Linked DNA regions of Homo sapiens: regions 2 and 3 are each linked to region 1. Evidence: fine-mapped expression QTL. A gene starts in region 1. Each other region holds a variant in brackets. All regions are shown on one strand. Distances are between the middles of the regions.

Evidence for each region. PIP is the estimated chance that this variant, and not a neighbour inherited with it, causes the effect.
Region 2: its variant is fine-mapped to the expression of FBXO38 in whole blood (TOPMed, PIP 0.98).
Region 3: its variant is fine-mapped to the expression of FBXO38 in whole blood (TOPMed, PIP above 0.99).

The regions. Positions count from the first base shown.
Region 1 is chr5:148,378,800-148,389,193 of GRCh38, forward strand. It overlaps FBXO38 (F-box protein 38), which reads left to right and starts at 5,159. Exons shown (of 22, transcript NM_205836.3): 1 at 5,159-5,240. FBXO38-DT (FBXO38 divergent transcript) reads right to left here and starts at 5,051. Exons shown (of 5, transcript NR_105057.1): 1 at 4,700-5,051; 2 at 1-46. RefSeq lists an enhancer at 4,936-5,135.
Region 2 is chr5:148,181,706-148,192,099 of GRCh38, forward strand. No RefSeq gene overlaps it. Among named protein-coding and RNA genes, the nearest start is that of SPINK6, 16 kb to the right of the region's middle. The variant C/T (reference allele first, on the strand shown) is at 4,927.
Region 3 is chr5:148,406,352-148,416,745 of GRCh38, forward strand. It overlaps FBXO38 (F-box protein 38), which reads left to right. Exons shown (of 22, transcript NM_205836.3): 7 at 1-43; 8 at 2,773-2,866; 9 at 4,284-4,414; 10 at 7,785-7,955; 11 at 9,577-9,719. Among named protein-coding and RNA genes, the nearest start is that of FBXO38, 28 kb to the left of the region's middle. The variant G/A (reference allele first, on the strand shown) is at 3,807.

The DNA.
Region 1 (10,394 bases):
AATCATGGCGGAAGGTGACAAGGAAGCAAGCACATCTTCACATGGCCTGCAGGAGAGAGCAAGCAAAGGAGGAAGTGATACATGCTTTAAAAGAATCAAATCGCATAAGAACCCACTCACTTTCGTAAGAACAGAAAGCAGGAAGTCTGCCCCCATGATCCAATCACCTCCCACCATGCCCCTCCTCCAACACTGAGAATTACAATTCAACATGAGATTTTGGTGGGGACACAGACCCCAACCATATGAGTTTGCAACACATGAACTTTGGGGAACACATTCAAACCATAACACTGAAGGGTAATTTTTTAAAAAGAAGTTTACTGAATTTGCTTTTTCACTCTTAACCTTTTCACTTCCTTGTCACATAAACATGATCTTGTGCAGTATAGCACAAATTAAAAATGAACTGCAGTGTCCTTAATTTTTAATATTGTTTAATGGTCACTCAGAGTTCATGCTTATGGAAGTGTAAAAGTCTTCAATGCAGGCTTTTGTTTTTGTTTTCTCTTAATCTACCACCATGTGTTGGTTTTGAAATTGCAATTCTCTATGTATACACCTACATACAACAGCCTTTCACAGAATTTTCTTATGTAACTTGGGAAAAATTAGGGCACTTTGAAAGTAAACTTCAGAAATATCATATGCTAAGAATTCAGCCCTTATCACTTCAACTATCTAGAAATAGCTGAGAAGCAGGAAGGAAAAGAGGTCTCTGAACAATCAAATAATAACAGCTAACATTTATAGAGTGTTTGCTGCCTGCCAAGCACTGTTCTATCTGGATTACAAACATTACCTCACAAGAAACAAATGAGGGTGAGGATGTGGAGAAATTGGAACCTTTGTACACTGTTGATGAGAATGTAAAACAGTGTAACTGCTATGGAAGAGTATGGTGGCTCCTCAAAAAATTAAAAATAGAATTATCCTATGATTCAACAATCCCACTTCTGCATCTATATGCCAAAAGATGAAAACAAGATCTCAATAAGATATTTACACTCTCATGTTTATTCCAGCATTATTCATAATAACCAAAATGTGGAAGTAACCCAAATGCCCATTGATGGATGAATAGAAAATGTGATATATACAGGCAATGGAATATTATTCAGCCTTAAAACCTTGAGGACTTCATACTAAGTGAAATAAGTCAGTCACAAAAAGACAAAGTGTGTGAAGCTACTTCTATGAGGTATTTAATGTAGTCAAACTCAGAAACAGGATGTAAAACTGTGGTTTCCAGAGCTAGGGTAGGAGAAAATGGAGAGCTCTTGTTCAATGGACATAGAGTATCAGTCTCGCAATGAAAAAGTTCTAGAGATCTGCTGAACAACGTGAATATGGTTGATACTACTGAACTGTACACTTAAAAATGGGCTCAAAAATTTTTTTAGCTCCCACATATGAGTGAAAACATACAGTGTTTATCTTTCTGTGCCTGAGTTATTTCACTTAACATAATGTCCTCCAGGTTCATCCATATTGCCTCCAATGACAGGATTTCATCCTTTTGTATACATATTTTGTGTATATGTTCCACATTTTCTTTATTCATTCATCTGTTAATGGTAGGGTGAATACAGTTAATGATAGTTTATTGTATATTTTCAAGAAGCTAAAAGAGAGGATTTTGAATGTTTGCAACACAAAGATGATAAATGTTTGCGGTGAATGGATATGCTAATTAGCCTGCTTTGATCATTATAGATTGTATACATGTATTGAAATATCACTCTGTATCCCATGAATATGTACAATTATTATGCATTAACTAAAAACTAAAAATGAATGGAAATACATAACTAAAATGGTAAATTTTATGTTATGTGTTTTTAATCACAATGAAAAATAAACAACAAATAAATAACATAAAGAATGAATTGATAAACAAAATGTGAAATATATATGCAGTGGAACATTATTCAGATTTAAAAAGGAATTAAATTCTAAATACATGCTACAACATGGATGAACCCTGAAGATATTATGCTAAGTGAAAAAATTCAGACATAAAATGACAAATATTGTTATGATTCCACTTATATGAGTACCTAGAGTGGTCAAAATCATAGAGTCAAAAAGTAGAATGGTGGCTGCCAGGGACTGGGGGAAGGAGAGCATAGGGAATTGTTGTTTAAAGAGTTTCAGTTTGGGAAGATAGAAAAGTTATGATGATTGGCGGCGGTGGTGTTTGCACAATAATGTGAATGTGCATAATTCCACTGAACTGTATACTTAAAGAGGTTAAAATGACAAATATATATATTTTGCCACAATTTTTCTTAAAAAATAATGTATGACATTATTCATGCACAAATGCAAGACTGGGCTGGAGGGACTACAAGCCTTACTTTTTGATGCTTGTGCTAATATTCATACATCCAAAAATCTAAAAATTAAAAACAATGAGGTAGTGTGGTAAATTACAGATGGCCACAAAGTCTTTGCTACATCTTCAATTAAGAGGTGGACTCTTATTCTTCTCTTGAATCTGGGCTGGCTTAGTGGCTTTTTTGACCTAACACGACGTGATGGAAGTCACTCCTGGGACTGCAGAGGCTACATTATATGAAGTTTTGTAGCTTCCTCCTGTTTTGCTTGGAACAGCTCCCTTTTTTCCCATTCTACCTCCAAGTGCTCCCTGTCAAAACCCAAACACCACGGTATAAGAAACCCAAATCAGAGGGAAAGCCCAAGTGTAGGCACTCTGATAAATAGCTCCAACTGAGCATCTAGAGATCAGCCAGCCTCAACTGCCATCAATATAACATCTATTAGAGGCTGACATTAACTACAGCCCCAGTTTGATATCTGACTGTAAATGCCAGAGACTGCAAGCTAGGACTGCCCAGCCTAACCCAGTTACCCTACAGAATCAGGGCAGATAAAATTTTTAGCCACTAAATTCTGGAGTGACTTGTTACGTAGGTACCATAATGTCTATTTTAAAGAAACCTGAACCTTAGAGCTGAAGTGATTGCCCATTGTCTCTCTGCCAGTAAGCAGAGGAACTCACAGTTAACCAAGTCTTTCTGGTTCTAAAGCCTGCATTGCTGACTACTAAATACACAACTTCTCAGTCAAAACAGCTACAATAGTTTTTTTTTTTCCTTTTTACCTTCAAAAAAAATCCTGTATTTGAATTCATAGTGGAGTTCTGCCATATACGCCAAGTCTAAGGGTAGTTAAGAATAGCCTTGATATGCATAGCACCTTCTGCAGTTGTGCACTGAACAGGCTCCATAGCCATATGAACCTGTCCTGAGCAAACTCCAACCACTATCCCTGACCAAAACTTCTCTTGAGTATTAGTCATCATTTTAACAAAGGGATTATCTGTTGTTTAGGTACCTAAGGAATTTCAAGGAAGAACACGGGCTGATACTAGAACTCATGGAAGAATGAAAAGAGATACTTTAGAATTTAATTAAAAAGTGGGGATTGAAAATTAAAACAACACAGCGGTTTAAGGTCATTTACTGTAGGGCAAACTTTCCTGCAGCGCTCAGGGACCCCATGATGGTGCCACTGTACAGGAGAAATACTAACTCAGGACCTTTTTAATGAAAACCTGTAACATCAAGGTACAAATAAATCCTAGAGATGAAGGGATACATATAACATGCTCTACCTGAAAATGTTAAAACTAGTTTTGATATCTTATTATATATAACACTCATAGCAGTGAGAAAATATCTTTAACATTTATTACAATGATTTGTGGTAGGAAATTTTCTAAACTTGAGGTAGGAAACCTTTCTTACTCATGAGTATTCATTTCAGGTCCCACTACAGTGCTTTTTACAAAAGGAGGAATGCTAATAAAATGAAAATCATATTCCATTGAATTAAAAATTCAGGCCAATTGTGCTGAAATAAATCTTACTGAATGCCTTCTAAATATGCCATGCCCTGCACTAGAAACTTTCGTAATTCCTATTTATTCTTCAGAATAACCTGGGAAACAGAAAAAGCTAAAGTCTGTTTCCTTTATTAAAGTTTGAATATGAAGAAACCGACAGAAGCAAATAGCATAAAAATTCATTTTTGTCTTCAATTACAGGAAGAATGTAACATGAAAGCTGAGATTACAATGAATAGTACATGAATATGATGAGGTTTTGTTTTGTTTGTCCTACCAGAGCTCCAAATAAAAACACAGATATATGGTTTGACATACGGAATGGGATAGCTAAAACTGTGACTGCCTAAGACAAGCTGAAACCTAAGGTGCCGAACCATATTGGGGAAAGAGGGGAAAAACCAGTAGGTCTGCTATCAATCAAGAAAAGAATAAGAAGAAATGGGATTCCCAAGCCTTCTTCAGCTTTTTCTTCTCCAGCAGAATAGCCTAGTCAATGCTACGTCTTGTCAAATTGTGTCTCACATGGCTTTAATGCACACTAACTTTCCTAAGAAGTATTTGTATCTATTTAAATCTAGGGATTTTAGCCCATATTAATTACATGTATATTAGGGCAAGAACACAGGATGTAAAAGGTAAAAATCTGAATTTCAGTCCATCTGCGAGACATTGTGAAAATCAATTACACTCTCTGAAGACAATTCCTTATCCATTAAACAACAGAAAAGGTGATTAAGTTGATCCTTGCCTACATGTCAGAGTCGTGTAGAGTTTTTAATGACACTCATGTGAAATTCCTTTGGACTGTAAAATACTATTACTTACGTGCAAAGATAATGTCCCGAAATCACAGAAGGGATGACTTAACATTAACATCTTTAACTGCGCCCCCGTCCTTCCTCTCAAAAAAAAAAAGTTCTCTATTTTTAGTTGAATGATTCTGGGAAAATCTCTATTGGAACCTATCGACTTCGCAAATGACAAAGGCGAGGTCCAGAGACTTATCCAAGACCCCAGAGTACCAGTGGAAATCAAGACCAAACCACACGGTGGAGACTGGTTCCGACGTATCAGACTCAGTGCTTCCGGCATGGCGCTTTAGTGTCAGGTGAAAGAACAGCAACCCGCCCCGCTTCTCCACCCCTGACAAGCCTTCCGAAATGCCACGCTGAACATGGCTGCCGCGCTTCGATGCTTCTTCACACACACAATATGGACACGGGTTTGAGGCTCCAGCCCCGGATGACAACACTCCGGAAATATGCGAGCGGCGGCGGAAGCGGAAGTGCCTCAGCGGTAGGGGCCGGGGAAGTGTCTGTAGCGTCCCTCCCTCTCAACCACAATAACAGGCGGAGGGTCGGCGTAGGTGAGGCGGCGGCTGAGTGGGCCTGGGGACCGGGAGCGGGGTGGCAAAGCCCGGAGTGCGTGCGGCAGGGCTGAGGTAGCTGGGTGGGGATTCTGGAACTTCCGACCGCTTAAGCTCGGCCTCTGGCCCCCTTGGGGCCTAGAGCTCCTTGAGAGATCAGGGGTTGAATTTGTAGTTCCTGGCCTTCTAGGCCGTGCTTGCGGGGGTTGCCTGCTTGTCTGAACCTGGCCCCAAAATCCAGCATAAAGAACTCTCTCTGGGCCCCAGTTTCCTCAATGAAATGGGTGAGGGTGTTGGACTGGACAGCTTCTGTGACTGTCTCCCACCCCGGGCGTCACGAATTTCATGATTTTAATGTTAAGTCGGTGTTTCGGCCAGTAAAGTGAAGGAGGTCTGTGTTCAGCGTAGTGAGGAGATGTCCCTGAGCAGGAAGCAGTGAACACATCTTTGGCTGCCACGCCTGAGTATCAGGAGCCCTGAATTCTAGTTTCACCCCTTCCACCTACACACCGTGTGACCTTGTCTAGGTCCATTAGCTTTTCTGTGCTGCAGTTTGCTTATCTGTGTTGGATGCCTTTGATGTCCGTGCCCTAGCTGTGGAAATCAGATTCTTAACTCCCTTTTCATGGAGTCTTTACAGACCTGAAAAGCATATTCTCCCTGCACTCTGCACACCCAGAATTTGACTAAGAGATGTCTACCGTGTTTCTTTGCAGACACCAAGCTGGCCAAGGGCAACTGGTCACTTAGGAAGGTTCCTGTGCAATGAGAAGCTCTGTCCAGAAAACTTTGTTTTATACACCTAAACCAGCAGTGTAAATCACTACAAAGTGAAAAACAGGAGACCTTGATTTTTGTTCCAAAGTTGCTATTAACTTGATGGTTTACTTTGGCCAAATCCCTTCCTCTCTCTGAACTTGAGATTTTTTTATCTGCTAAAGGAAGACGTTGGATTAGGTCACTGGTTTTTAATCCCCTTTCCCATTCCCCCAGCACAAGTGAAGGATAAAATAATAGTTCTATAAAGCCATGATTTTCCCAGGGAAGGAGGAGGTCCAGTCTGGAGGGTATGTATTACATAGGCATAGACTGAAAAAAATCCGCTTGTAATTTTTAACTTTCATTTTGAGAATTAACATTTTAGATTATCTGTAAGCCTTCTTTCCCCTCTTTAAAATATGTGATGCTGTAATTCTGATGTCCTCCTTGGGTAAAGAATGTAGAGTTTTGTGTGCCTCTTTGTTTAAATGGCTGTGTGCCCAGAGGTACACACTTTATATTTAGTCAAACAGATACTAATGCATAGCAGAGGAGAAAAAGGGACAACTAGATTCCAGTAAGATAGGGTGATATAGTGAAGTAAAATTGGTGGTATACTAAAATGAAATAAGGTGGTATAGTGAAATAAAATTAAAAAGGAGTTGAAGACCTGTATCCCTGCTTCACACTGGTACATCCTGCCTCTGTGACTTTGGACAAGCCATCTAACATCTCTAGGCCTCACTTTCCTTATCTGTAAAACGAAGGGTTGAGCTGGATGATTCCTAGGCCTTTTTCAGCACCATCATCCTGTTGGGGGGTTTTTGTTTTGTTTTGTTTGTGTGTGGTTTTTATCTGAGCAGTTTGGTTTATGTGGTGTGGTATTTCTTTAGACAAGAGAGGCTGTCCTGGTCAGTAGATACACAAGATAGTCTATGATGTCAATTAAGGTCTGTGAGGTCAAATTAAGTGATATGCAAGATTACTTTGATATGAGCAAGCTGAAACCAATAGAAACTAAAGAAAGGCATGAGAAACTTGAAGGGCAGGGAAGCCCTTGACCAGATAGGATCATTGAGAATATAGGGAAGTTTCAAGTGAGAGGGGGTATTTTTCACGAGGGTAAAGAAAAGTAATTTGAGTTTGGGATGGGAAGGAGATTTGAATTGACGAGATAGGAGAACACTTTTTGGAAACAACTCTGGTTTAAGAATGTGCTTGCAACACCAAGACAAAAGTAATGCTTCCTGTGGCTAAGGTCAGCTAAGCAGGCAGCCACAGAGTGACTGTAATATACCAAAGGTGGCCATAGACCACTGCATGGGAGCCTAAATTAAATGGACCATAAATCCTAATTGGTGAAGGTAGGGTGTGGTCAGATGCAGTTCTATCAGAGCATCTAGAAGCCTTTCTCCAAGCACTAGGGCATTGCTCTGGAATGCAGGAAGACAACCACAGTGACAGAGGACTGACTTGATGATAGAATGTTTACTGTAACCTGGGAAGTCTGTATCCCAGCCTGAACCTTGACACTATTTAATCTTGGGCAAGTGATTTGTCACCTTATCCTCTCTGGTTCTGTTTGTTCATCTTAAAAATTTGGGATCACTAGATGAGCTTCGATGTCTGTGAATATGAACCCCCTGAAATCGTGTATGTATTTCTGCTTGCATGAGTCTGGAAAACGGATGTGCCACTTTCATCGTATTCTCAGATGGGTTTGTGACCCACAAAAAATTGAGAACTGTGTGATTAGGTAGTGTCTCTGGTCCTCTTCAACTTTTAACATTCTGGGATTCTGTAATTCTGTCATTTCTGACATTTCCTTAAGGTTCAGAGTCTTAGGGTCTAGAAGTTGCTAAGCCTATAGGTAACACCTGGTACCGCAAAGTATAGTCTTTATATATAATACTCTCCTCCTTATTTATTCAGGCATAGCTCAGAGATACTGCAGGTTTGGTTCCAGACTACTGCAATAAAGCAAGTCACAAAGTTTTTGGTTTCCCTGTGTATATAGAAGTTATATTTTACAATGTAGTATAATCTATCAAGTGTGCAACAGCATTATATCTAAAGTAATGTATACGCCATAATTTTAAAGTACTTAATTTAAAAAAAATGCTAACAATTAATCTGAGCCTTCAGCGAGTCATAATATTTTTGTTAATGGAAGATCTTGTCTCTGTCTTGGTGGCTGCTGACTGATCAGGGTGGTGGTTGCAGAACATTGGGGTGGCTTGGCAGTTTCTTAGGACAACAGTGAAGTTTGCCTCATTGATTGGCTCTTCCTTCTAGGAAATATTTTGTTGTAACATGCGATGTATGATAGCATTTTACTCACAGTAGAACTTCTTTCAAAATTACATTCAGTTCTCTCAAACCCTGGTGCTGCCGTATCAACTGAGTTTATGTAGTATTCTAAATCCTTTGTTGTCATTTCAATAATGTTCACAGCATCTTCACCAGAAGTAGATTTCATCTCAACAAACCACTTTCTTTGTTCATCTATAAGAAGCAACTTCTCATCTGTTCAAGTTTTATCATGAGATTGCAGCAATTCAGTCACATCTTCAGGCTCTACATCCGATTGTAGTTCTCTTGCTATTTCCTCCACATCTGCAGCGACTTCCTCCACTGATGTCTTTTGTTGTTTATTATTTCAATCCTGCTCCTCCTATAACCACAGAAGTCTTGAATCCCTCAGAGTCATCCATGAGGACTGGATTCCAAACTCTTGTTAATGTTGATATTTTGACCTCCTCCCATGAATCACAGACGTTCTTAACAGCTTCTAGAATGTGTATCCTTTCCAGAAGGTTTTGAATTTAGTTTGCCCATATCCATCAGAGGAATCACAGTCTATGGCAGCTATAGCCTTAGGGAATTTATTTCTTTTTTTTTTTTTTTTTTTTGAGATGGAGTCTAGCTCTGTTACCAGGCTCGAGTGCAGTCGTACGATCTTGGCTCACTGCAACCTCTGACACCCTGGTTCAAGCAATTCTCCTGCCTCAGCCTCCCAGGTGGCTGGGATTACAGGCACATGCCACCACACCCAGCTAATTTTTGTATTTTCAGTAGAGATGGGGTTTCACTATGTTGGCCAGACTGGTCTCGAGCTCCTGACCTTGTGATCTGCCTGCCTCGGCCTCCCAAAGTGCTGGGATTACAGGTGTGAGCCACCGGGTCCAGCCAGGAAATTTGTTTCTTAAATAATATGACTTGAAAGTTGAAAGTTCTTGATCTAGTTGATCTATTAGCTGCAGAATGGATATTGTGTTAGCAGGCATGGAAACAATATTAATCTCCTTGTGTATCTAATGGACCTCTTGAATGACTAGGTCCATTGTCAATGAACAGTAATATTTTAAAAGGAAACTTTTCTGAGCAGTAGATCTTAGTAGAAGTCTTATTTAGTATACTATACTGTAAACAGATGTGCTGTCTTTCAGGCTTTGTTGTTCCTTTTATAGAGCACAGGCAGAGTAGATTTAGCATCATTCTGAAGGGCCCTAGGATTTTCAGAATGGTTAGTGAGCATTGGCTGCAACTTCATGTCACCAGCTGCATTCTCTAACAAGATAATCAGCCTGCCCTTTGAAGCTAGGCATTTACTTCTCCCTAGCAGTGAAAATCTGATATGGAATATTATTCCAATGGAAGGCTGTACGTACTGAAAATCTGTTGTGTAGTGTAGCTACTTTCAGCCGTTATCTAAGTTAGATCTTTTGGATAACTTGTTGCAGCTTCTCCATCAACATTTGCTGCTTCACCTTGTGCTTTTCCGCTATGGAGACAACGTCTTTCCATAAACTCATGAACCACCCTCTGCTAGCTTTCAACTTTTCTTCTAAAACTTCCTCACCTCTCTCGGCCTTCATAGAATTGCAGAGACTTAGGGCCTTGCTCTGGATTAGTCTTTGGCTTAGGGAATGTGGCTGGTTTGAACTTCTGTCCATAAAACTCAGACTTTGTGTATATCAGCAATAGGCTGTCTTGCTTTCTTATCATTTGTTTATTCACTGGAGTAACAATTTTCTCAAGAACTTTTTATTTGTGTTCACAACTTAGCTAATGTTTGGCACAAGAAGCCTAGCTTCTGGTCTGTCTTGGCTTTCAACATGACTTCCTCACTAAGGTTAGTCATTTCTTGGTTTTGATTTAAAGTGAGAGATGCTCAACTCTTCCTTTCACTTGAACACTTAGAGGCCGTTGTAGAGTTCTTAATTGGTCTAATTTAAATATCATTGTGTCTCAGGAAATAGGGAGGCCTAAGGAGAGGGACAGAGATAGGAAGAACAGCTAGCCAGTGGAGCAGTTAGAACGACACCATATTTATCAATCAAGTTTGCCATCTTATACAGCATGGTTTGTGGTACCTCCAAAACAATTAAAGTA
Region 2 (10,394 bases), 200 kb before region 1:
GCTTCATTCTTTTTGCTCAGTATACTTTGGCTTTTCACGGTCTTTTGTGGCTCCATACGAGTTTAAGAGTTGTTTTCTCTGTTTCTATATAAAAAGACTGGAATTTTTATATTGAATGTTTAGATCATTCTGGGTTGTATAAACATTTTCACAATATTAATTCTTCCAATCCATGAACACAGATATTTCTCTATTTTTTCTTCAATTTGTTTCGTCACTGTTTTATAGTTTTTTTGTATATAAATCTTTCACCTCCTTGATTAAATTTACACCTAAGTGTTTTCTTTTTTGGTTGCTATTGTGGATGGGATTAAAAAATTTTTTTGGATAGTTCATTATTCGTTTATAAATACTAATTTTTATATGTTGATTTTGTATGCTGCCACTCTACTAAATTTGTTTATCTTTTCTAGTAGTTTTCTTTGTGGCATCTTTAGGGTTTTCTATATACGAGATCATACCGTCCACACACAGAGACAATTTCAGTTTTTCATTTCCAAAAGTTTTCATTTAATTTCAACAAATAAAATGATTTTTGTTCTATGGTAACTTTGTTTTCATTTTATGTGTGTATGTGTGTATTATGTGTAAACATTTGTGTGTGTGTGTGGCAATAATAGCTAAAATCTACTAATTTAGCATGAATCCCAATGTAGTAATGGGTAATTTTATTACCCGTAGTTCTCATGTTGTATATTAGATCTCTAGACTTATTTATCCTACATATGGGCTATTTTTTAAAATATTTTGACCTACATCTCTGTATTTTCATACCCTTCCACACCAAACTTACCCCTGATAAACACTGTTTTGTTCTCTATTTCTGTGTATTTGAATTATTTTGAGTTTCACATATAAATGAGATCAGGCAATACTTTTATTTTTGGGTCTGGCTTATTTCACTTAGCATAATGTCCTCCAGACTCATTCATTTTGTGGCAAATGGCAAGACTTCATTTGTTTTAAGGGCTGAATAATATTCTATACATTCATACGTGTGCCACAGTGATTTTAATCCAGTCATCCATCAATGAACACTTAGGTTCTTCACATATCTTGGCTATTGTGAATAAGGTTGCAATGAACATGAAAGTGCAGATATCTTTACAAGGTCATGATTTCTTCCTTTTTGGATATATACTCAGAAGAGGGACTGCTGGGTTACATGGTAGTTCTATTTTTAATTTCTTTTGGAACTCCGGTACAGTTTTCCACAATGACCTATTAATCTACAGTCCCATCAACAATGTTTCAGGGCTCCCTTTTCTCCATACCCTTGCCAAAACTTGTTACTTCTTGTATTTTTGACTATATATATAGATATATGCACAAATACATACATATATATATATATATATATATACACACACACACACACACACACACACACACACACACACACACACACATATATATTTGAGATGGGATCTCACTCTGTCACCCAGGCTCCCAGGCTGAAGTGCAGTGCAGTGACACAATCATGGCTCATTGCAGCCTCCACCTGCTTGGGCTCAGGTGATCCTCCTACCTCAGCCTCCCAGGTAGTAGGGACTACAGGCGTATGCTACCACAGCCTGCTAATTTTTGTATATTTTGTAGAGACGGGATCTCACCATGTTGCCCAGGCTGGCTAGAACCCCTGGGCTCAAGCGATCTGCCTGCCTCAGCCTCCAAAACTGTTAAGATTATAGGCAGGAGCCAATGCACGTGGCCCCTTTATATATTTTGGATATTAATTTTTTATCAGATATATGGTTTACAAATACTTTCTCTGAATATGTAGGTTCTTATTCATTTTGTTTATTGTTTCCTTTGCTGTGAAGAAGCTTTTTAGTTTGAGGTAGCCCAACTTGTATCAATTTTTTCTTTTTCCTTTTGGTATGATATCCAAAAAATCATTGCCAAGGCCAACGTTAAAGAGCTTTTCCTCTATGTTTTCTTCTAAGAACTTTGGGGTTTCAGGCCTTATACTTGGAAGGTATTACAATAGATCCCTCAAAAATAGAATGGATAATAAGGGACAATAGAGAAAATAATTTCTTAGAAAATACAGCCTACAAAGATTGAGTCAGAAAAAGTAGAAAGTCTGAAAAGTTCAATAACAAATAAGGAGACTGAAGTGGTAATTAAAACCTCCCAATGAAGAAAAGCTCAGGACAAGATGGCTTTGTAGCTAAATTTTACCACATATTAAGGCAGAATTAATACTAATCTTTCTTAAATTTTTCCTAAAATAGAACTAAGGAAATACTCCCAAACTCATTATATGAGTCCTGGTATCACCAGCTCGATATACCAAAGTCAAAGATACCACAATAAAAAAAAATGACAAGCGATTCTCTGACGAACATTGATTCAAAAATTCTCAATAAAATATTGTCAAAAGGGATTCAACAACATGGCGTGGTGGCTCACGCCTGTAATCCCAGCACTTTGGGAGGCCGAGGCTGGCAGATCACGAGGTCAAGAGATCGAGACCAACGTGGCCAACATGGTGAAACGCCGTCTCTACTAAAACTAAGAAAAGTAGCAGGGTGCAGTGGCAGGCGCCTGTAATCCCAGCTACTTGGGAGGCTGAGGCAGGAGAATCGCCTGAACCCAGGAGGCGGAGGTTGCAGTGAACCGAGATCGTGCCACTGCACTCCGCCTGGCGACAGAGAGAGACTCCGTCTCAAAAAAAAAAAAAAAAGTACATTATGACCAAGTGGGATTTATCCTTGGCAAGCAAGCCTGGTTTACCATACACAAATCAATCACTGTAACACGTCACATTAACAGAATAGAAGATAAAAACTTCTTTACCATCTCAATTGATGCAGCAAAAGCATTTCACAAAGTTGAACATTATTTATTGATTCAAAGCTCTCTATAGTTTAGGTATAGAAGGAAAGTTCCTCCACATACTAAAAACCATCTTTGAGAAAACCACAGCTAACGTTATAATCAATGGGGAATAACTAAGCTTTTCCTCTAGGATCCAGTACCAGGCAAGGATGCCCACTCTCGTCACTTTGGTTCAAACATATTACAGTACTGGAAATACTACAAAGAGTAATCAGACTAGAACAAAAAAGAAAAAGGCATACAAATCAAAAAATAAAAAAGTAAAGTTATTTCTAATGGCAAATGACAAGATTCTAAATGTAGAAAACCCCAAATACTCCACAAAAAAGCAGTTAGAACGAATCAATGAATTTAGTAAAATTACTAGATACAAAATTGACATACAAAAATTAATTGCATATCTGTACACAAATCATAACCTATATGAAAAATAAATGAAGAGAACAATCCCATTTTCAAAAGCATAAAAAATACTTAGCAAGAAATTTAAGCAAAAATGTGAAAGATTATACACTGTAAACTACAAAACATTGATGAAAAAAAGTGAAGACACAAATAAATAAAAAGATACCCCTTGCTCATGGATTAGAATATTGTTAAAATGTTTGTAATACCCAAAACAATATACAGAATTAACACAGTTTCTATAAAAATTCCAATGAAATTCTTCACAGAAATAGAAAAAAAAGTCCTAAAATTTGTCTGGAACCACGAAAGTCATCGAATCGTCAAAGTAATTCTGAGAAAGAAAAATAAAGAGGTGTAACACTTTCTTATTTAAAGTTATGTTAAAAGGCTATAGTGATCAAAAGAGTGTGTAGAACAGGCTTAAAAACAGAAACATTTCAATGGAGCCAAATAGGAAGCTGAGAATCAAAAGGTCAGGAGAGGGAAAGGATAATCTCTTTAGTAGATAGGGCTGGAAAAACCGGATTTCCTCATGAAAAGAATAAGGTTGAACCCTTATCTTAGACCATACACAAAAATCAAACAAAAATGGGTATATTCAAGATTTTCCACATTTTGTGATCTAATAGACATCCATACTATTTGTGTAAGACCTTTGAAATCAGGCTTCGGCAAACAATGATTTATGATTTCTTCTTACTTAAAAATATTTCTGGTTCAGTGTACCTTATATGAAATATTTGGGATGAGAAGTGTTTGGGAATTTGGGTTTAGTTTTTTGGATTTGGGAATATTTTCAGAAAACCCAGTGGTTGAGCATCCTTAATCCAAAAATCTGTGATCTGAAATGCTCCAATGAGCATTTTCTTTTGAGCTCCATGTTGGGGCTCAAAAAGCTCCAGATTTTAGATCATTTTGCATTTCAGATTTTTCATATTATGCACGCTCAACCTGTACTAAAGAAGATTATGCCATTTTAATGACTGGATAATATAGACATATAAACCTAATATAACTCTGAGGTGAAGTATATCCCTTCCAATGTCACATTCATTAAGTAAAGAGACATGGAAGAGATGCAGATTCAGTAGAGATCATAAGAAATTTAGTTTTGGATATAATGAATTTTAGGAAAAACTGGGACCATAAAACGAAAAATGTATATACCTTAGAATAATGAAATGACCCTTCTTAACTTTTCTTTTTGAGCAAATTCCTGTATGACTACAAGTAATAATAAAAGAATATGTGTGTTGTAGTGGTGGTGGTGGGGGCCTTGCTCAGTTTCTTCAGTTGGCTGAACATTTTCTGGCAATGAGAAAAAGGGACACATAAGACTATTAAGAAAATATAAATATGTCAAAGGTATACTTTTTTGCATAATAATAACTTAGCTTCTATGATTACTCAATCTCCTCCTTCGTCAGTGTTCCAAGGGAAACTATGACTTGTTAGCATTATGACTAAGTGTTAGGAGAGGAAATGCCCATATTGCAAAGTTGCATCCTAAGCAGTCAAGCAGAAGTTTGTGGCTTTCTTTCTGTGAAACTGACTCTTACAGAATGGCCCTTGACTAAGGGGAGAAGTCATTACACTCTTTCCCAGGACTCTCTACTTCTCCTACCTAAGACATTTATAATTATATGGTTAAGTGACTACTTCTTTTGTCTTCAA[C/T]ATAAGAATGTAAATTCTAGGCGAGCTGATATTGTGTCAGTTGGGTGCTTTTGGACTGATTCTAGGAAATAGTACTGTCTAATATCTATATTAGCTATAGGTATATTATCTATATCTAATATCATGAGCCAGATATTGCACAATAAGAGGAATCAGCATTCTGATCCAGTTCTTCAGCTCACTTTCTGTACAACTTGGGAGAATTCATTTAATCTTGCTAAGCATTGGTTTACTCGTGGGTAAAATAAGCTTGTACCTAATAAGCACCTCACAGAATTGTGATATTCAAAATGAGATAGCACAGTAAATGCACTTTTTAAAGTGGCATACTCATGTAAAGAAGTTGAGGAATAGCTTATTTTATAGAGAAAAAGATTTTAAAAATCAGTTTTTCTACTTTGCTTACTTTTCCTCAAGTATTCTTGTGTTCTGCAATATGATCTGAGGTTTGAGTTACAACTCTTGTCTGAGATATTAAAGCTCAAATCTTTAGCCTGTGACAAGTAGAGCACTGAATCTGCTTTTTAAAAACTTTAATAGTAAAATGGCATAATTCAAACAGCAATCATTACAATAAACTTCGTACTATAATGTCTCCTTGTACAAGAAGATGAAAAGGTATTAAAAACCACATTACAAAAACCAATTTAAAAATTAAAAAAACATACAAAATATGTGAAAAATATAACAATTAAATGAAAAAAGTGAAAGTTGTCAATATTAATAGGAAGTAAAGCTGAATACAAACCAAAGAACATTAAATTTATTTCCTTTAGCATCCTCATTCTCAGATAAGAAAGCTTCCTTTGTGACTGAGAATATAGAAGCAATTCCAAAAGATCTACAACAGGTTCCCACCAGCACATCAGCATCCATACTGTACTCTTCTCTGTTACTGTGGAAGAGGTCTCCATGTCCCTACCAAAGACTAACCCTGAACATTTTCTTTTATTGAAAGAAGGAAGATCTGAAATCGATAATCTCAAGTTACATTGTGAGAAACTGGAAAAAATGAGGAAATCTTAACAAGATAAGCATAAAAAAGAAATCATAAATCACAAAGGGGGAAAACAATTAAATAGAAAACAGAAAAGCAGTAGAAACAGATCAATGAAACCAAAAGGTAGTTCTTTGAGATTGATAAAACTGATAAACGTGAAGTGACCAATCAGAAAAAAAAAGACAGAAGACACAAATCACCAATAAGAATGACAGAGGTAACAACTCTAGAGTTCTTATATAAATTAAAATAATAATAAGGAAACATTATGAAAAAAATTATATCAACTATTTTGTTAATTTAGTTGAAGTGGAAGAATTCATTTAAAGACATAAACTACCAAAATTCACTCAAGAAGGAATTAATTTATATAGTCCTACATCTCTTAAATTAATTGAATTTCTAGATAAAAATCTCTGATAAGAAACTCATTGGCTCTGGTGCCATCACTGGTTAATTCTACCAAAAATTTAAATAAAAAAATACTGATTCTATACACATTCACATATAATATTAACGAAAAGAGAACACTTACTAAATTATTCTATGAAGTTGCCATTAACCTACTAACAAATAAAAAAAGACATTAAAAGAATAAATAAGAAAAGCAACTACTGCAGATAAATGTCCCTCATGAACAGAGAGGAATGTCCTAAACAAAATTTTAGCAAATAGAATCCAACAATATATAACAAGGACAATTAATAATGAGCAATTGGGGCTCAGGCAGAAATGCAATGTTGATTGACATTTAAAATTCAACCAATATAACTCAAGGTATTGGCAAACTAGAAAAGAAAAACCATGTGATTACTAGTGAAAAACAAAAACATATTTGACTAAAATTCAACATCAATTTCTTGTTAAAGCAAACAACAACAGCAATAACTCCCTGCAAATTACATATGGAAGGGAATTTTATTAACGTGATAAAGGGCAGCTATAGAAAACTTGTGGCAAACATCATAATTATGAAAACTCAAATGTTTTCCCCCTTTAAACAAGTACAAGATGAAGATTTCCACTCTCACTACTTCTTTTCAATATTTTGCTGGAGGTTTTAGCCAGCACAATAAGACAAGAGAGAGAGAAAAAAAAAGAAAGAACAGAACAAAACTTTCAGATGGGAAAGTAAGAAATAATACTGCAATTTTCTTTATTTGAAGATGAAATGATGGTCTCTGTAGGAAATGTGATGCAATCCACAAAAAAGGATACTAGATCTAACAAGTGAGTTTAGCCAGGTTGGAAGATATAATAACAAAATACATTAGAGGATATGGCAACAAAATACAAAATACATTGTACTTCATTTTACAGTTTTATTTTTAATCGACAATGACAATATATGTATTTATAGGGTATATGATGTTTACATTATGGAATGATTAAATCACGCAAATTAACAAATCCATCATCTCACATACTTATTTTTTTGTTGTGAAACAAAAAATCTAATCTTTTAGAAATTCTGGAATATGCAATGCATTATAAGTTATTATAGTCACTGTTTTGTGCAATAGCTCACTAAAGCTTATTCCTCCTCTCTTACTGAAACTTTGATCATGTTCCCTTTCCCCACCTAACTGCCTCCACCAGCCTCTTGTAACCACCATTCTACTTTCGAAACAAATTGTATTTCTATAAACTAAGAGCAATCAGAAATTTAAATGAAAATAATTCTAACAGCATCAAAATATGAAATCTGTTGAGCTTGTAAATGTCCTATACATTAAAATTTTTAAAAAAGCATTGTGAGGTAAATTAAAGGAAACTTAAATAAATAGAAAGATATGCCTTTTTCATGGGTCAAAAAAATCATTTTTGCTAAATATCATTTCTCCTCCAAATTGATTTATATGTTCAATGCAATTCTTACTAAAATTCTAGCAATGTTTTATGCAGAAATTGACAAGATTATTCTAAAATTCATATGGAAATCTAAAAGTCCTAGCATAGTCAAAACAACTTTGAAATGGAGAACAGCATTAAAACTAACATTACCATTTTTCAGGACTAATTATAAAGCTATAGATATCAAGACAGTATATCATTGGAGTCAAGATAGAAAAATTGATCAAAAGATCAGAATAGAAGGTCCAAAAATAGATCTATATACATATAAAAATGATTTTATAAAAAGATCTAAAGACAATTCAGTGGAAAAAAATGCTTTTCAACAAATGCTGCAAAAACAATTGAATGTACATAGACAAAAACAATGAACATCAATTATAAAAACATTAATTTAAAATGGATCCCTGAACTAAAATCAAAACTATATAACTTTAAAAATTATGATTTTAGAGTAGGTAAAATTATTAGATATGACACGAAAAACATCATCCATTAAAGAATATTTTGTAAATCAGACTTCATCAAAATTGAAAACTTCTGTTTTTCAAAAAAACTCTAATCGAAAAAAACAAGTTACAGGGTGGAGAAGGTACTTTCAAAGCACATATTTGATAAAGAAGAATTTGTATAATGCTCTTTAAACTTAACCAAATATAAATGAATGTTATCATGTATAAAAGATTTGAAGTAGACATTTCATCAAAGAATATACATGGATGGAAATAATCCACCATAGCATGGTGGCTACAGTCCAGAAAGGTGCATACCAAGAGGGAGCATCCTGACAGCAGGGGTTCCCAGACAGCCAGGTGCATCCTCTGTGGCTTTGTATGATCTACCCTCCCTTTTGACACAGTCTAGTGACTAACACAATCCTAAGCCCACCCAGATTCAGGGGCATTAACTATAGACCTCACTTCTCAATGAAAGGAATATAATCAGTTTTGAGACAGTTTTAAAATTGCCACACTGTGATAAATTAAAAGTCAGATCACGTGCTGCCTAAGCCTGTCATTCTAGAGGAAAAGATTGGAAAGAGTCAGAGTGAAAGTGTATTTTGGCTTTTATTTTCTTATTTTACATGATAGGATAAGAAAAAGAACTTAGGCAGGTATTTGGAGACTTGTAATTAGAAATTAAAGGAAATGTAGAGAATACTAAGAAATGTGATGCCGTAAAGGAAATTTAAAAGCTATTTTCTTCTAGACACCCAAAAGTAAGAAATGCTTTTAGTAACAAAAACCATATGTATTTTCTGAGTTTAAAAAAGGTTTTCAGGTTTGTTGCCATGATCATATTAAGACTGTTGACTTCTCACCTAAGCTTATAGTTTCAGATGGCCACAAACTATCTGCCATTAAATTTAGAAACAGAGGTAAAAGAATAAAGAAAAAAAAAGGTAAGCTTCAGAATTGTGGCTAGAAAGAACTTAGGACACTTTTAAAATAGTTACTGGTGTATGGAAAAAAATTAAACAAACAGTTAAGGAACCCTCTAAATGTTGAGGGATTTATATTGTCAGATAAACAATAAGCCAAGATTAAAGAAACTATGACCTTCAATAAATTTTCAAGACCCAGAAAATGACCATAAACAAGTAGCCTTTGAAGGTAGTACAGCCCCAAAAAGTAAATGTGGTTTTCTAACTTTATCTCAGTTTGGTTTTTGGTAGAAATGCAAGAGCCTATCAGAGGGCACAGCCAGAAACGACCAAGAACAACTGACAAGGGCATTATTTTCAATAACAGAATCAGAGTCTTATCAAAAGCTATATGCCACTGCCAGCCCAGGGTGTCTCTACCCTTCCAAGTAAGCAATTTTTATCAGTGCTATGTGCCAATGACATCTATATGTATCTCATTACACTTTTTTTTAATGAGAGTTTAAATTATGATTATCCTGTTCATATTCCTCTACTGTATAAAAATCATGGGGGAGGGGTGAGGAGTTGATAAGTCTCCATAAAGAGCTACTTTTAGAAACCTTGAACTTTCTGGTGGTTGCAATGACTGGATAAGACTTTACTTGGTCTCCTTTGAGGGGCAGGGTATATCCCACATGTGGACAAAAGGGTGTGCACAGTTTTTTATTGGTCACGGGGCCTAATTGTCTACAAAACTCATACTACAAAACTATAATATAGAACATTTCTGGGAATTGGAAGTCTAATAAGGGAATCTATTTCTCTGTCCTTTTTGCATATGGTGTTACTATATGCCTAATTCTCAGCAACAATGAACAAAAATGTTGTATTCCACTTTTAAGCCACCTTTAAAGAATCACAATATTTTATTCTTCTCACCACTTTGATGCAAATGAGCAGGGCAAATTTGAGCCATGTATTGAAAATGGAAGAGCCAGAAATGAAAGGAGACTGGGTATCTCCATCACTGCCTGAAGGCAAACGGCCTGTGAATTAGGGACAATCATGGGGATGTTATGCAATTGAGAAACAGACTTCTATCCTCTACAAATTATTACACAAAGGGGTTATTTGTTGTATCAGCTGGGATTACCCTAAGTAAAACATTTGTAATAAAAGGCACAGTGCAAAATTTACCTGCATTAGGGTATGGAGATAAGGGAGTTATTGGGTCATGCTAGCTTTAGA
Region 3 (10,394 bases), 28 kb after region 1:
GGAGGTCTTATCCAACATGTTGTTGAAGACAGTTGGAGATCAGGTATTCATTTTCTTTAATTACTAAATATTTTTTAAAAATCAACTTAAAATAATCATTAAGCTTTTATTTAACTTCCCTGGCAAGTCTTTAAAAAGAAAATGCTCGTCAGTAACTGCTTTCTTTGTTGTATTTGATGGACAGTAAGTAACCATGAGCATAGCTAGTATTCATTTTCTTTTGGTGCACATTAAACTTTCTTAAAATAGACAGTAGAGTGATAAGACATGTTTTCTGGCTTGTTTTGACTTTTATGTAGCTAATAATACCTCCTCTTATGTATGGAATCTTTCTTAGAAATGTTAACAGGGATTTCTAGCGTTCTTTGGTGATGTTTTACAACTTGTACAGCCGAGGCTTCCAAAAAAAATTTAGGCATTAATAATGTTAATCTCTATCACATAATACTTTATAATATAAAAAATACTTTTATACATATTACTTGGATATTGATTTACCCATCAGATGATGATATTTAAAAGAAAAAAGTTGTTCTGTGTATACTTAACTATAGATAAATAATACGTAACAGAATGTGCTTTGTGTTAAACATCTCATTGCAGAAAAAAAATAGTGGTTTAGCAAAATGGATGATTAATAGTTGGAAACCAAAAACTTAACTTTGGCTCTCTAAAATAAAATGGAAAGTCATCAAGTACCATTGTTAACAAACAGACATTATAGTTAATACTGTTGAAATATAATGAAGAGTAAACACTACATTTCTAGACATTTTGTCAGTCAAGTGTGGTATAAGTGTACTTTATTACATTTAGCCAGTGGGATGAAACAACCCCTTAAAACCAACAGTATTTTGATTGATGGCGATAGTTAACAAGATAAAAGTCAAAAACGAAAAGAAGGCTACTGGTGTATTCACTAGAGAGAAGACCTGTAGAGAGGTGCTAAAAGCTGAGTTTGTATAAAGGTCCTAAAAGAAAAACAGAGACTTTTCTTCTCTAATCAGTTTTTAAGGGTGACCCTGCCTTGTATTTTACTCAAGAAGTCAACATACCTCACACAAAAATTTATTCTAGATGGGTCATAGATTCAGATGAGAACAATTTTGAAATGAAATTTAAAAAAATAACTTAGAAGAATGTCTTGTTGACCTTGAGTACACAAAGACATCTTAAACAGGACACCAAAAAGCATTTACCATAAAGAAAATATTGATAAATTGTACCAAATTAAAATTAAAATTTTTTTTTTTTTGTCCATCAAAAGGCATGATTGAGAGAGTGAAAAACCGGCCGGGCGCAGTGGCCCACGCCTGTAATCCCAGCACTTTGGGAGGCCGAGGCGGGCGGATCATGAGGTCAGCAGATCGAGACCATCCTGGCTAACGTGGTGAAACCCCGTCTCTACTTAAAAATACAAAAAATTAGCCCGTCGTGGTGGCGGGCACCTGTAGTCCCAGCTACTCGGGAGGCTGAGGCAGGAGAATGGCGTGAACCTGGGAGGCAGAGCATGCAGTGAGCCTAGATCGCACCACTGCACTCCAGCCTGGGTGAGAGAGTGAGACTCTGTCTCAAAAAAAAAAGAGAGAGAGAGAGTGAAAAACCAAGCTACAGAATGGGAGAAGCTGTTTGCAATACAGATACTGGGTATTGGGAAGATATAAAGGACTCCTGGAATGAATAAGAAAAAGGCAGGCAACTCAATAGAAAAAATGGGAGAAGACTTGAATAGAAAAGTTTGCACACAAGAAGCCAATAAACATGAAAAAACGATAAAAGTTTACTAATCGTTAGGGAAATGCAAATTGAAACTACAGTGTGATATTCAAGCACTAAAATGACTATGCCTACTCGTGACTAATATGAAAAAGATAAAAACAGTAATGTTGGCTAGGATGTGAAGCAACAGGACCTTTCATACACTGATGGTCAGAATATAAATTCATACAACCACTTTGAAATACTGTTTGGTAGTATCTACTAAAGTTGGTCATACACATAGCAACAGTTGCATTCCTGGCTTTAAACCCAACAGAAATGTTTACATATGTTCACCAAAAGACATTTTTAAGATTGTTCATAGAAGCACTGTTTCTAATCATCCCAAAATGGAAAGATGCCTATTGGCAATAGAATGGATAATTAAATTGTGGCATATTCATATAGCAAAATACTGTACAGTAATAAGTGAACAGACTACAGCTACACAGCGATATGGATGAATCTCATAAACAGAGTGTTTAGTAAAAGAAGCCAGACACAAAAGTATACAAACTTTGTGATTTTATTTATACAAATTTAAAACAGATAAATCAGTCATTTCTTTAAGCTATATATTAGTAATTTATGTTCTTTTTTGTAGGTAAATACAAGTTTCAGAAACATTAAAAAAATCAGTTAAAGTGGTTCTGGTCTTGTTCCATATGATATTTGGAGGTTCGAAATTTGGCCAGAAATGGCAGGGTTTCTTTTTTTACAATTCTCTCATCAGCTTCTGACTTTCTAAAAATCCTTACTTAACAATGTAAATCTTTTAGAGTAGTTTTCAGATGCCATCAGTGTCTTTGCAAAATGAGGGTCTGCTTTCATTTCCTTTTAGGTCACCAGTAGTTATAATTCATCTTAAGATATTAATTTCAATGCAAAAACAAAGCTTAGATTTACTTTTAAATCAGTAATTATCATCTCAGATAATACTTTATAATGTATAGTATATAAATACTTCACTAAAAATGCTATGGTCAAACACTTGTTTTTGTTCCTCGTCTTTAGGTGGTTTTAGAAATTTGCACACTATTGTTCTGGGAGCTTGCAAAAATGCTCTTGAAGTAGATCTTGGTTACCTCATCATTACTGCTGCCCGTAGGTATGTTTCCTCTTTGTATTGTGTCTCTCACTTTAGAAGTAATTATGTTTTTCCCTATTTTACAAAAAATTGTGGAATGTGTGTGTATATATGTGTGTACATTTGATCAAGCCTTGTTCAAATTTAAAATACGAAGAAGTCCAAATAACAGATAAGTATAACATCATGGTAGTCTTAATGTTATAACTGGTAACCAGTTGAGCTGCATACTAGCAAGCTCCAGAGTGGCATGGTCTCATATCAGAGAAAAGCAGTGGAATTTCTGGAAATGGCTGAGAGTCCAATAGAAGTTAGCATTGAAGCTCTGGTGTCTGTAGCCCTCTCAGGACCATTGTCTCCATCTCTGGATGATTTTCTGAATTGTTCTAGTTACTTGGTGATAATATTTGCTATTCAGAAATCAGTGTTTTAAATCAGCTTTTCCAAAGTCTGACCTTGTAACACCTCTATATTTTTTAACCAAGTGGTTATATCACTTTATGCCACATTTACTATTTCTTACATATCAATGGTCTACCTCCACTTTTATTTTATAATATTTTCTTTAAGCATTTTTAAAATTTATTCAGAAACAAAGCTTTTTCCATCAAGAGACTTGATTAGGATTATAAATAAAAGTGTTTCTAAGTTTAGGTAGGTATTGTTACCTACTACAGAATTATACTCTTTGTTAAAATGCAACATTAATAGCTAGCCTAAGCAAAATGTCAAATACCAGCACCAGATGCAGATTCTCACATTGACTCTTCAGGTTTAGTAAAGCACTTGAAAGGATATAAGATTCTTACCTGTAATTAATTGTTATTTAATGTATAGCTTCAGTGTACTGCTTAAGATTTCCTTACACTTTGCAGATACTCCTTTGAAGAAAATATTTTTTTTTTCAATGGAGGAAGTGGGAGGGAAGTTGTTGACATCTGTGACACTTCACTAAAGTCAT[G/A]AACTTCTTTCAGAGTCTTACTGATATGGTTTGGCTCTGTTTCTCCTCAGATCTCATCTTGCAGCTCCCATAATTCCCATGTGTTGTGAGAGGGACCCAGTGGGAGATGACTGAATCATGGGGGTGGTCTTTCCCATGCTGTCCTCATGATAGTGAATAAGTCTCACTAGATCCAATGGTTTTAAAAATGGGAGTGTCCCTGCACAGCCTCTCTTTTTTTGCCTGCTGCCATCAGGCAAAAATGTGACTTGCTGCCATCAGTCAAGATGTGACTTGCTCCTTTTTGCCTTCAGCCATGTTCGTGAGGCCTCCCCAGCCATGTGGAACTGTGAGTCCATTAAAACCTCTTTTTCTTCCCAGTCTCAGGTACGTCTTTGTCAGCAGCATAGAAACGGACTAATACACTTATATTAGGAGGAATCTTTGATTCTGATGGTTTTTGTTTTACTCTGATATGTTCTCTGTCTTTATTCACAGGTTACATGAAGTTCGGATCCAGCCTTCCCTAACCAAAGATGGTGTCTTTTCTGCCCTAAAGATGGCAGAGTTGGAGTTTCCCCAGTTTGAAACCCTTCATCTAGGATATGTAGATGAGTTTTTGCTACAGAGTAAGATTTATCCCATTTTAATTCCTAGAATTACTGTAAGAAATTTACTTGACAAACTGAAATCTGAATTGGGTTGTGCCATGTCTTTTTGAACATAAGACAACTTAAAATCTTAGGTGCTCTCACGTCTTGAAAAATAAACTTTTAAATTAGAAATGTCAGTGATTTTTTTTTCCATATTGCCTCTGATTTTAGCATATTATAGAAAATATAGTTACTAACAATACACCAGAAAAAGAACCTTATCTACATTTGATATTGTCTCCACTTTACTGCCCAAGTTTCTTTCCCATTCTGCTTCATTTTTTTCACAGAATGTCATCCTTGGTTCCATTGTTGAATTTGATCTGCCACACTTCTTGAAGCTTTTGATGGTCCTCTCAGATGAGGTCCCATTCCCTGCCCATGCTCTTCATTTCCATAATAAGCCCGCTGGGGGTTCTGGATTTTCCAGATAGTGTGAGCACATAATGGTCAGTATTCATTTAATGATGATTGCTGTTGGAAAGCTTGTTCACAGCATTTTCTTACCCATTTACAATTGAGAACTCATTTCTTTGGGTTTGAATGCATGTCAATTCATTACTCAAACTATTTTTCCATATGGCATCAATAAGATATGAAAGAAAATTTTCATCACCAACATGCTTTTATTTATTCAAGAATTCATTTTCTTCCCACCTGATTTGCAACAAGTCTTTCTTGAACTCTCATCCTCATAGCAGATAACATTTTTTCTTTGGATCTAGTTTGTATTATAGAAGAACATAAGAAGGCTTAATTCTTCCATTCAGGACAATCCAGCTCAAAAAACATGACTGTTTTTCATTTCTAATATATATTACAATAATAGTTGTGGGTTTTTTGTTTGTTTACTTTTTTGTTTTTCACAGTACTCATTAATATAGGTGATTACTTTAAAAAGTCAAGCCATCCTTTTCTAGACAGTTTACTATTAGAATCATGTTAAATCTGTATAGCTTTGAAAAAGATCAGCTTTTCTCCAAAATAGCTTTAAAATGCTAATGAGTACAATGATTTTATATAAAATTAATACATTTGATATCAAGCTTTTCTGGTTTTGAATGAAGTATCTAACATTCCCTATGTTTCTGCAATGTCTGTATAGTAACAAAATTATTAGCTTTGAAATTGATATTCTTTCTATAATTTTGTTTTCTATTTTTCCCAAAAGCTCAGAACTTGACAAATTGTGTACCTTCAGGATGGCCAAATTTAGGTCTACTGAAGAATTGTCTTCAAGTGTTAACTTCATAACCAATTATTTTCCTGTAGTGTTTCTTTCTCCTCAACATATGTTTTCAATAGCATAAAAATACCTTCTTGACTACCATTATCTCGTAGTTTTCAACACAACTTGTTTCATGTTCTGTTTCATACTTAATAGTCTGTTATGTTGAACTTTGTACATTCATTTTCTTATTTGCCACAGTTTAACCATTTCTTCCATATGCATACTATCTTCTGTCCCTCCAAAGATGACCTAGGATTCTCTGTTTCAGAATAGGTGCCTGGTACTTGTTATGGACGATATCATGAGGTCACTGCTCACTCACACTCTCTCACTTAGTTTCTCTCTTCTCAGTAATTTAGATTTGAAGCATCTCTCCAAGAAGTGGTGGCTGGCCTCTGGTAAAACTTGAGTCACTTTCTTGTTATAAAAGGTCTGGCAGAATAAATAAATAGAAACATCACCTTTGTCTTCTGACAGTGACCCAAAGATGAATCTTTAGAGAGTTCTTTGTTCATGTGGATTTATGATCTGTAAGCTTTATATAATACTGATAGAGACGTATAACTCAGTGAAAATTTCAGAAACAATATAGTCCTAGCCCTAGAGTTCTAGCAATTTAGTCCTAGAGCTTGAGGGAGAGAGAGAATTGAGGCCTGTCTGCTACTAATCATGAGACCTAAGCAAGTTAATTCTCATTTTTTAAATGAAGATAAGGTGGTATCCTGCTTTTCTCTTGGGTAGCTCTGAGGAACCAAGGGAAAAGTGATGTATACATTTACAGTAATCTCTGACACTTAGGAAGTATTCAATAAATGATAACTTTTACCTTTAGCTCACCTGTGGGCTGAAAAGAAAAACAAAAATGAATCTCAAGTAATATCATCAGGATTTTGAAAGGAGTGTGTCAAGCAGGAAGCCCCAAGAGTAGAAACATGGTGTTCATCTCAAAAAACTAAATGCAAGACATCGATTTGTCATGTTAGGTTACAGCATTTATTCAGATAGTGCCCAGGAAACAGGGTCAGTTCAAGGTTTACCCTATCTTAAGGAAAATGGTAAGTTTCATCTGAAGTCCTAAGAGCAGGGAAATGATCCTTACCAGGAGCTAAAGAAAATAGTTCAGCTAAATTGTAAAGGATGGATTAAGGTGAAATTTGTAAGATGTGCCAGGAGATACCAAATATAGGAACTATAGGAGAAAGACTGTCAACTATATGGAAAGTAAAATTGGAAGTTTGGAGAAGATGGATTGTTTTTAACATGTTGTAGCTAAAGTTGTAAATCCCTGTGATATTCAGGGCAGCTTCACCAGAGTGGCAGTGTTTTTTTTTTGTCCTGCATATTGGTTGATTGCAGACTGTGAGAGACGTATTCCCATGAGCTCTTGTATCCCCAGCACTATGCTAGACACTAAAGATGTAACTATGAACTAACAGAATCTTGGAGCGTGAGGGGGCAGGCAGATGGGAGAAATGATAAGAGGCAAGGGATGAGGTGTGATTCTTAGTGACATGATCTAGAATAAAGGATCCTCCTTTACTTATTCCCAAACCCCTAGTTTGTGACCAGAGAGTAGGCACTAAAGCCCAGTGGCATGTGTTTGAGTTAGAAGTGCACTTTTAGGGTATAGATAGATGTTACTAACCAGTGCCATGGGTTCTAACAATGAATCTTAAATTCTCAGAGTTTACCTTTCTCTACACATGTCCACACTGGGCTCCAAGAACATCATTTTATTGTAAGGGAGTTGAGTTTTTAAGATTTTGTTTTCCTTTTAAATGATAAAGCTAAAACTTTACCATGGTATGAACCAGTATGATAGATCCTTCACTTATGCTTTAAGAATTTTTGCCTTTTCTCTTCTCTAAACAATTGGAAATAATTTTTCCTACTAGCTGTCCCTTGACTTTTAATATAATTTATTATTTTGTACAAGAAGTGCTACCATATGTACGGAATACCTAACCTAAAATTATACCTGAACCCAATGATAAGCAGATGATACAGAATGATGGTAGAGACTTTTTATACTGACTGGTAAGATACAAAGTTGGTAACACTCCCTAACACTTAAGAATTTGACTTTTTTTTTTTTTAATTGATTGCTCTTTTTAGGCAGAATGGCTAATGCGGATCTGGTGAAGTATGGTTTGGCTGATGTGGTAGAAAATCCTGGTATCATCACTGATATAGGGATGAAAGCAGTCAATGAAGTTTTTTCCTGTATCAAATATCTGGCAATTTACAATTGCCCTCATCTACACAACCCATACAATTGGATCTCAGGTATTACAGACTTAAAAATACAGCTATGTTTTATTGATACTGAAATAATACAACTTTCCATGTTTTCTATGTGTGATATGATTGCATTCCTAATGTAAAATGTAGGTATTTCATTTGGATTGTTCATACAAGTTCTGGTAACCTTTGATAACCAAGTTGGAAGTATATTCAATGCCTCTTTAAACTTCTGACGTTCTCTGCCTAGAAGTGTATACTCTCCAGGTTGTGGATTCAAGTGCCCTGATTTTTATATGTACTTCTTTGGGCTAGGAACATAAAATTAAGGTTAGTTCATTGTTACCTAGGACTTAGGATATTGTAGTTATTTTCTCAGAATTATCTTCACAATAGCACATCATCTGAAAGGACAAAGTAGGTATGTATGTTGAACTTTAATTAAGTGACATTAACCTGAGATAAAAATTTCTATTGACTAGAAATCCCAGTCTATTTCAGATCTCCCCCTCCAATCTCCTATATGTAGAAGTGTGACTTTTGCACTTGATATTTTTCCCTTATGGTGGGAGTTCATTTTCCTCTCAGAGTAATGTCATCTGTTTTCTTAAAGGCCCTTCTTAGATACCGAAATTTACAAACCATTAAATAAATTGAGAGCCTGAAAAAGTTGTACTTGTGACAAAGCCTCTCACTGACACCTACAGAACAGCCTCCTCTGCTATTGAGTCACTTGACCGGGATCTGTATCTCCTCACAAAGCTACTATCCAGGCCTATTTTAGGGCTCTGGGACCTCTGCTGAGATCACTCGTTAATATAGTCATGTCTCATGTGCCAGCAGCAGTTAAATTCTATCCCTGGCCCTGCTGAACCAAGAAGTTATTGGGAAATATGAACTTTAGGATGTAGCAGGCGTAGATGACTTTAAAAAAATAACATTTATTGGGTTTTTGGTTTGTTTGTTTTCTTAAATACAGAAGAGTATAAAGAAGAAAACAAAAAATGGCCTATAATCCCATCACTCAGAATTCCTGTTAACACTTAAAAAAATAAGTAATACATGCACTTGATAAATTTCAAACAGTACAGAAAGGTACAAAATGAAAACTCTCCTCTTCTCAAAGGTAACCATCATCAACAGTTTTTTGTATATTTTTCTGGACAAATTATGCATATTGCAGCATATATATGTGTAGCATTTAAAAATGATTTATATTATACCAAAGGATCTTACTCTGTATACACTGTCCTGTAGCTTGTTTTTTGTACTAAGTATAATTTGGAGAGTTTTCCATGTCAGCAAGCATATTAAGCTCTCCTTAATTCTTTTGAAATAGCTACATAATGTTCTATTAAATAAATATGCCATAATTTTTTAATTCAGTGTCCTATTGTTGAAAAGCCATGTAGGTTGTTGAGTGGATCACATTTAAATCAGGGCTGATTGGATTCAAATTAATGTTCCCCAGGCCATTTAGTTCTCACAATGGAATTAGGTATGTAAACATCATAATTTAGAATCATCGGGTTTTAGAAGTCATGAAAAAAAGGAAAAGTTATTTTAAAAAAAAGGATTTGAAAGTCTTTGTGACCTGTATCAAAATTCATCAGTAATGGGGAAAATGTTACTTAGATTTTCTCTGGTCATGTCATTTCTTTAACAGACCACTCAAGATGGACTCGATTGGTTGATATCAACCTAGTACGGTGCCATGCTTTGAAGCTGGACTCTTTTGGCCAGTTTATTGAATTATTACCCAGCCTAGAGTTTATTTCACTGGATCAGATGTTTCGTGAACCACCCAAGGTAAGATACATTTGAGGGAGTTTTTGTTTATTTTGATAGGAAAGAAAATAAAAACAGCCTGTGATTTTTTTTTTTTTTTCTTTTCAATGATATGCCTTTACGGTGTTACAGTCGGACTTTTTACTGCCAGCCTCAGTGAAGGCATAAAGGTTGTAATAATGCATAGCCTCTCATTCTTCTAAATGAGAATTAAGGGTTCTCTGGGGAAGGGTAAGGAAAAAATAAGTGGAAGCTGTCTGTTAGTATATAAACAAAAGGTAAGGTAAGGGTGAGGCTGGAAATTTAAGACAGAAATTATTACGTGGGATAATTCATTGGTGGATTAAATATAATTAGGTTGGTAGATTAAATCTAATTAGGAATCCAAAGTATAAACAAGAATTAAGGATTTATTTGGGGAATGTTTTACTTTGCTGCTATCTTTCTGTTAAGTTGTATAGCCTGGGAAATCTGAGGTAGCCCAGTTGTACAAAATGTTATTTTAAAACTGCTTAACATATAGAACTTTGTACTCTTAAGGCAATTAAAAACTTAATCCTTCAACCATTTATGTTCTCTCTTGTCAGTTATTAATGGTTACATTCCCACTGTTGAAGCAGTACAATATAATGGGGAAAGCTCAGGATTTAAGGTCAGAATCCTGGTTTCAAATTGCGGCTCTACCACTTACTGGCC